Linked DNA regions of Homo sapiens. The protein of the gene in region 1 interacts with the protein of each later gene in a pairwise test. Each region holds a gene or a part of one and is shown on either strand. Other genes may lie near its edges.

Region 1 (3,750 bases):
GCGACACAGCACAAGACTCCATCTCAAAAAAAAAAAAAAAAAAAAGCCAGGTGAGGTGGTGGCTCACGCCTGTAATCCCAGCACTTTGGGAGGCCAAGGTGGGTGGATCATCTGAGGTCAGGAGTTCGAGACCAGCCTGACCAACATGGTGAAATCCTGTCTCTATTGAAAATACAAAATTAGCCAGGTGTGGTGGCGCATGCCTGTAATCCCAGCTACTCAGGAGGCTGAGGCAGGAGAATTGCTTGAACCCGGGAGGCAGAGGTGGCAATGAGCCGAGATGGCATCACTGCACTCCAGCCTGGACAACAGAGCGAGACTCCCTCTCAAAAAATTAAAAAAAAAAGACCCCGTTTTTCTGGTACCCAGCAAGATCAGGGCTGTGGGTGCGTGGGACACCTCGCCTGTTCCAGTAGAGAAGAAAGCCCAGCCCCTTCCGCAGGTTGACAACATCACATATGTGGGGGGTTTTCTTACCAGGCGGCCCCGCTGGACCCTTCTCTCCTGTCTGGCCTCGGTCACCTTTAGACCCGGGGGGGCCTGCAGGCCCTGGTGGTCCTGTCTGCCCCGGGGGCCCTGGGGAGAGAAGGAGACAGGGCATCAGAACATGGTGGACCCCCAGCCTCCAGTGGCTCCAGGCCTGGCCCCCTGGGCTGTCAGCCTACGTTCCCCCAGGAGCCCTGCCTACCTGGGACTCCCTAAACAGGCAAAGGCACTCACATCACCTTGGAGCTGGTTATTACAACTTACAAACCAGCTTTGCACTTACAAACATCTATGATTCTAAGAACTGCTTTCGTTCCCATTTTCAATGTGGGGAAACTGAGGCTCAGGAAGGTTGGTCCCTTGCCCAAGCTCACACAGCCAGGCTGCAGATGAAGTTGCTTAGCTCCAGGTCCCTCTCTCACACCCTGCTGTCTCTCTGCTTAGGGTCAAGAACCGGGCTTGTGGCAAAGTGCTCCCCAACAGGTGGCCTCCGAGGAGGCCCCAGGAGGTCCTGAAGGATGGATCTTCCCAGCTACAGATCTCTAAACCCCAAGGGTGGACAAGGAGATGGAGAGGTAAGGCTTGCTGTGTGGCCAGGGGACAGCCTTTTCTCCCTCTGGCCCAGAGAGGATGCTGAAAAATGTTTGCTCAGCACCTTAGGAGGCTGAGGCAGGAAGATCACTTGAGCCCAGGAGTTTGAGACCAGCCTGGGCCACATAGTGAGACCCCATCTCTACAAAAGATACAAAAGTTAACCGGGCATAGTGGTGCACGCCTGTGGCCCCAGCTACTGGGGACGTTGAGGTGGGAGGATGGCTTGAGCCCAGGAGGTCTGGGCTGCAGTGAGCTATAATCACACCACTGCATTCCAGCTTGGCTTACAGAGCGAGACCGTCTCAGAAAAAAAAAAAAAGTTTGCTGATCTGATGAAGGGACCTGCACTGAGTCTTAGGGCCCTTTGCACTCTGCCTGCATGGGACTGTGGTATGGTGGGGAGGGCCTGGCTGGGGGCTGCTGGCCTCGGAAGAGCCCCACCTGCGCTCTGGAATCCAGGTTGGCTGCAGGTGTCACCATGTGTAGAGTGTGTGCCCCACCTGGTGGCCATTCTTGAAACTGCATTTTCCCCTGGTTGGAAAGGTCTTGCCAGGCATGCGCTTTCGTGGGCCTGGGTCCCCGGTGGGATGGGAAGCCCCTCCTCCTCCATCCCCCAAGAAAGATCTGAAGAATGTGGGCATGAGGTAACGCTCTGGGGGTGAGACCTTAGGGACAGCGGCTCGAGGGGTAGGCCGGGGGCCAGAGTGAGAGAGGTCCCCCTTCCCGTAGGAGACCTGAGCTCGGCCCTCCTCCCGCAGCCTTCAGTCCCTTTCCAAGAATGCAGGATACCCTACTCTCCTTCCCCGGCCCTGGGACTGGCCACTGGAGGCCACCTGTGTCATGCATCTCTCCTCCCTGCTCTGCCCCTGCTCCCCAACCCAGCATCAGAATAGACACTCAGAACAGAGGGCAGAGGGAGAGCGCCCCCTCCAAAGGGCTCTAAGGGCAGAGAATCATGGAGGCAAAATGCCCCCAGCTTGCTGGCTTGCTGGGTGACCCCAGGGGTGTCACTTAACTTCTCTGAGCCTCAGGTGTCTCCCCTGTAACCTCAAGGCTTCCAAGCTTTGTGTGAAGATTAAGAGTGATATCTGTAGGCTGGGTGCGCTAGCTCACACCTGTAATTCCACACTTTGGAGGCCGAGGCGGGTGGATCACTTGAGGTCAGGAGTTTGAGGCCAGCCTGGCCGACATGGTGAAACCCCGTCTCTACTAAAAATACAAAAATTAGGCTGCGTGTGCTGGCTCACACCTGTAATCCCAGCACTTTGGGAGGCCAAGGAGGGCAGATCATTTGAGGTCAGGAGTTCAAGACCAGCCTGGCCAACATGACAAAACCCCTTCTGTATTAAAAATGCAAAAAGTAGCGGGGCTTGGTGGTGCGTGCCTGTAATCCCAGTTATTAGGGAGGCTGAGGCAGGGGAATCCCTTGAGCCCAGGAGGCAGAGGTTGCAGTGAGCCGAGATCACGACACTGCACTCCAGCCTGAGTGATAGAGTGAGACTCCATGTCAAAAAAAAAAATTATATCTGTATTTGAAATATTTTCATATCTGATATGAAAATATTTAATAACTGGCACAGTGCAGATCCTGACCACTCATGGTAGACCTCAGCCTTCAACCCCTGGATTCAGCCTTATAGACAGGTGTTGTTTGCTAAATGTCCTCCAGGATAAAGCCCCACCTCAGTGTCTGGCAACCAGGAGGGCTTCATCGATTGCAACTATGATTATTACAATTGTGATTAAAGCAAAGGTAATTACAGCCCCAGGTGGCAGAGCCCAGACCAGTAGGTAGAATCTGCAGAGGGAAAATTCTTCCCCTTAACTTTAAAATGTGGCCAGGGCCAAGCATGGTGGCTCACACCTGTAAATCCCAGCACTTTGGGAAGCCGAGGCATGAGGATTGCTTAAGGCCAGGAGTTTGAGACCAGCCTGGCAACGCAGTGAGACCTCGTCTCTACTAAAAATTAAAAAAAAAAAAAAAAGCCAAGTGTGGTGGTGTGCACTCGTAGTCCCAACTACTTGGGAGGCTGAGGCAGGAGGATCACCTGAGCCTCGGAGATGAAGGCTGCAGTGAACTATGATCATACTACTGTGCTCCAGCCTCAGTGACAGAGCAATACATTGTCTCAAAATAAAATAATAAAATAAAATAAAATTGTAAAAGTGTGGCAGGAAGGCAGGGGGGCAGATGTCCTCCAATTCCAGCCAGAGAGTTCAGAGAGCAAACCCCAGAAAGAGGTGGGAAGCAGTAAGTTCCTGCTCCCTGGCCAGGCAGAATGCTGCAAAATTGAACCCAGCAAGGCTGGGCTGGGGGCCATAAGTGCAGAAGCCAAGGAGCAGGGCAGATACTGAAGACAGTAGCTGAGCTGTAAGACAATAGGGAATGGTGGGGACTGCGGCAAACTGCACAGCCTGGACTGGACCTACAGTGGCAACCCAGTAGCTGGTTGTTTCCATGAGGGACTGCCAGCCCTGATGGCCAATTTTCTCATTTTTATTTTTATAATTTTTTGTAGAGACAGGGTCTCACTATGTTGCCCAGGCTGGTCTTGAGCTCCTGGCTTCATGCAATCCTCCCACCTCAGCCTTCCAAAGTGCTGGGATTATAGGTGTGAGCCACTGCACCTGCCCAAGATCATCTATTTTTTTGAGACAGGGTTTCACCCC
Region 2 (3,750 bases), on another chromosome or scaffold:
TCCACACAGTCTTACCATTGGTAAAGCAAATCTCACCATTTGCTTTATCATTTATTCTCTCTCCCTTTATCCCCTCTCTCCTCTGTGTGTGTGTGTGTGTGTGTATGTGTGTGTATTATATTTCCGTTTTTCTGAGCTCTTTGAGGGTAAATTACAGGCATAATGCTCTTTACCTTTAACTTTTTTTGAGATGGAGTCTTGCTCTGTCGCCCAGGCTGGGGTGCAGTGGTGCAGTGGCACGTTCTCAGCTCACTGCAAGCTCCGCCTCTCGGGTTCACGCCATTGTCCTGCCTCAGCCTCCCAAGTAACTGGGACTACAGGCGCCCACCACCACGCCCAGCTAATTTTTTGTATTTTTAGTAGAGATGGGGTTTTACTGTGTTAGCCAGGATGGTCTCGATCTCCTGACCTCGTGATCCGCCTCGGCCTCCCAAAGTGCTGGGATTACAGGTGTGAGCCACTGTGCCCGGCCAATGCTCTTTACCTTTAAAAATAAGGACATTCTCTTACATACCCATAGTACAATTTTTGAAATCTGGAAGTCAGCATTGATATAACACTATTAGCCAATTTATAGACCTTATTCAGATTTCATCAATTATTCTGATAATATTCCTTATAGGAAAAGAAAATAGTAGATTGTGAGTTTTATTTGATTGTCATGTCTTTTTAGTTTCCTTTAAAGAATGACTGAGAAATGGTTCCTTATTCTTTTATGACCTTGAAAACCTTGAAAATTTTTACGAATATGGGCCATTTATTTTGTATAATGTCCCTCAATTTGGGTTTGTTTGATGTTTCCTCATAATTCAATATAGGTTATGCATTTTTGCCTGGCATATCCCAGAAATGAAGTATCTTAGCAGAGGCATTTGATGTCAGTGTGTCCCATAATTGTGGTGTTAACTTTGATCATCTGATTAAGGTAGTGTTGACCCAGTTTTTCCACTGGAGAACTTTTTTCTGAACTCCATTGTAAAATTACTATTTTTCCTTTTGTGATTAATAATTATCTGGGGCAAACCCTTTGAGATTATGTAAATATCCTGTTTATTTTTCAAATGTTAGTCCACTAGTTTTAGCTTCCATTTATGATTTTTACCTGAATCAATCAGTTATTATTGAGATGGCTGCCCAAAGGCTGATTTTCTTAATTTTTTCTATGTGCATTCATTATGTATCTATATATTTGTTGGGAACGGTTTTCCCTATTTTTCATTTATATATGTATAGAATGATGTATTAATTTATCACTATAGATTAATGGATGGGTATTTTTATCAACCAAGATCTGGTAGTAAATGTGTTTACTGCTATTGGATCTGATTTTTTTTTTTTTTTTTTTTTTTTTGAGATGGAGTCTCGCTCTGTTACAGCCCAGGCTGGAGTGCAGTGGCATGATCTCGGATCACTGCAATCTCCCCGTCCCGGGTTCAAGCAGTTCTCTGCCTCAGCCTCCCGAGTAGCTGGGATTACAGGTGGCTGCCACCATGCCCAGCTAATTTTCTTGTATTTTTAGTAGAGATGGAGTTTCACCATCTTAGCCAGACTGGTCTTGAACTCCTGACCTCGTGATCTACCTGCCTCAGCCTCCCAAAGTGCTGGAATGTCAGGCCTGAGCCACCACGCCCAGCCTGATCTGATTATTTTTAATAATGAGAATACTGGCTGGGTGTGGTGGCTTATGTATGTCATCCCAGCACTTTGGGAGGCCGAGGTGGGCGGATCACCTGAGGTCGAGAGTTCGAGACCAGCCTGACCAACATGGAGAAACCTCATCTCTATTAAAAATACAAAATTAGCCTTTGTATTTTTGTATTTGCTTATATATGCAAAGAATCTATTCCTTCCTTTTTGGAAGGAGTCACAAGAAACTAGTAATATTGGTTACCTTTACAGAGTGAAACCTGGATGGTTGGAAATGGGAGTAGGGTGGAGACTTTTCACTTATAAATCTTTTAATTTTTTTACTGAATTAATTAAAAGTTAAAAATTCACACACTGGAGGTCTAAAATTACTGAAACACATGATCTGAATGTAAGAATTCTAATCAAACAGTTTACTTAAGTAATACCTGGGCAGATAGCCAAGATAACTTGGTTATCTTGGTAGATGACAATAGTAGAAAAATTGGTAGAAAGTTGGCAACTTTATTTATATACCATGATGTGTGTACTTTAGTCTTAATGAATATTTTGTTTTCTTTTGGCAGCATGCATATGCGCTAGAACTTCTATTTGATCAGTTGCATGAAGGAGCTAAAGCTCTTGATGTAGGATCTGGAAGTGGAATCCTTACTGCATGTTTTGCACGTATGGTAAGAGTTTTATTTCTCACTCTGGCCCCAACAGAAGAATATTATATGATTTGGCTGTATGTTTTTTTAACTAGTGGTTTTCATGTTTATTTGTTTGTTAATTCTATTAGGATAGCAGTTGGAATGAGCATCACTTAGGATTTTGTTGTTGTTGCAAGTGACAGAACATGCAACCCAAACTGGCAGAGCTAAAAGGGAGTTTATTTAGTTCATATAACAGAAAAGTCTAGGGGTGTATACGGTCTGTTGTGTGGCTGGATTTAGAAGAGCAGATGTTGTTATTGACGATAGGGTTCTCTCTGTTTCTTGATTTGGCTTTACTTTCCTCCACATGTTGGTGTCATTATCCGGTAAGCTCTACCCTTGTAATCACAAGATGGTGGCCAGTAGCTCCCAAACTACCTTCTTCCAAGTTCTGATTTGGCAGAAAAGAATAGAATAAGCCTGGTTTTCTTTTCTTTTTTTTTTTTTTTTCTTCTTAAAAACAGAGGTTTTATTGCATTTGGTCCACAGTTGGTATTTCACCTTATCTCATGGTGCAGGGACCCTGGGTAGGGGACTCTCTACAGTACTTGGTGGGGCATGTGGCTGGGGGAGACAGAGCAGTATAGCTGGTCAGGCCCAGAAGGGGAGAAGGAAGGCTGGAGGCTCCTTAAAACCTACTGAGGGACCAGACGCGGTGGCTCACACCTATAATCCCAGCACTTTGGGAGGCTTAGGCAGGCAGATCACATGAGGCCAGGAGTTCGAGACCAGCCTGGCCAACGTGGTGAAACCCCATCTCTACTAAAAATAGAAAAATTAGCCAGGCATGGTGGAGCACCTGCAGTCCCAGCTATTCAGGAGGCTGAGGCAGGAAAATCCCTTGAGCCCAGGAGGTGGAGGTGCAGTAAGCCTTGATTGCACCACTGCACTCCAGCCTGGGCAACAACAACAACAACAAAAACCTACTGAGGCACAGTGTGGGGGGTGGGCTTAGCATGGAGAGGGGGTCAGGCTTAGCCCCGACAACTCAGAATTCTACTTCCTTGTACAGGCCTCAGTTTCCCCACCGGGCCCTGGGACATGTCTGAGGGTCCCAGGGAAATCCAGTCACTCAGGAGCCTGAGATATTTAGCATCGTAGCTGGGCCCCGTCTCCCAGGGGACTCATTTCCCAGCACCCTCTCCACTGTCCCTGCCCAGAATGAGCCTGGTTTCTAAACATTCCTGCAGATTTACCAGGATGAAGGTAAAACTTCTGCATTAGAAAAAGTGCTCTTAGAAAAATAATGCCTTGTTATACTTCTGCCTTTTCTCATCAGAGTCTTATCTGGTCAATGGCTATCCAGAGTATTAACTGGGGACCCACTAATATATGTTGGAGTAAAGGTTGATCATTGCTTAGATCATCACATCAGTTTGATTTGAGAAATATCGTGCCTGGAGGACAG

The links.
Region 2: the proteins of COL26A1 (region 1) and PCMT1 interact in binary tests that used the Homo sapiens proteins (3 or more experiments, as listed by UniProt).

Annotation. Positions count from the first base shown.
Region 1 is NC_000007.14:101,540,824-101,544,573, reverse strand, and holds part of COL26A1 (collagen alpha-1(XXVI) chain isoform 1 precursor), read right to left. Parts: intron 577-3,750; coding exon 478-576; intron 1-477.
Region 2 is NC_000006.12:149,787,741-149,791,490, forward strand, and holds part of PCMT1 (protein-L-isoaspartate(D-aspartate) O-methyltransferase), read left to right. Parts: intron 1-2,213; coding exon 2,214-2,318; intron 2,319-3,750. UniProt on the Homo sapiens protein: Initiates the repair of damaged proteins by catalyzing methyl esterification of L-isoaspartyl and D-aspartyl residues produced by spontaneous isomerization and racemization of L-aspartyl and L-asparaginyl residues in aging peptides and proteins.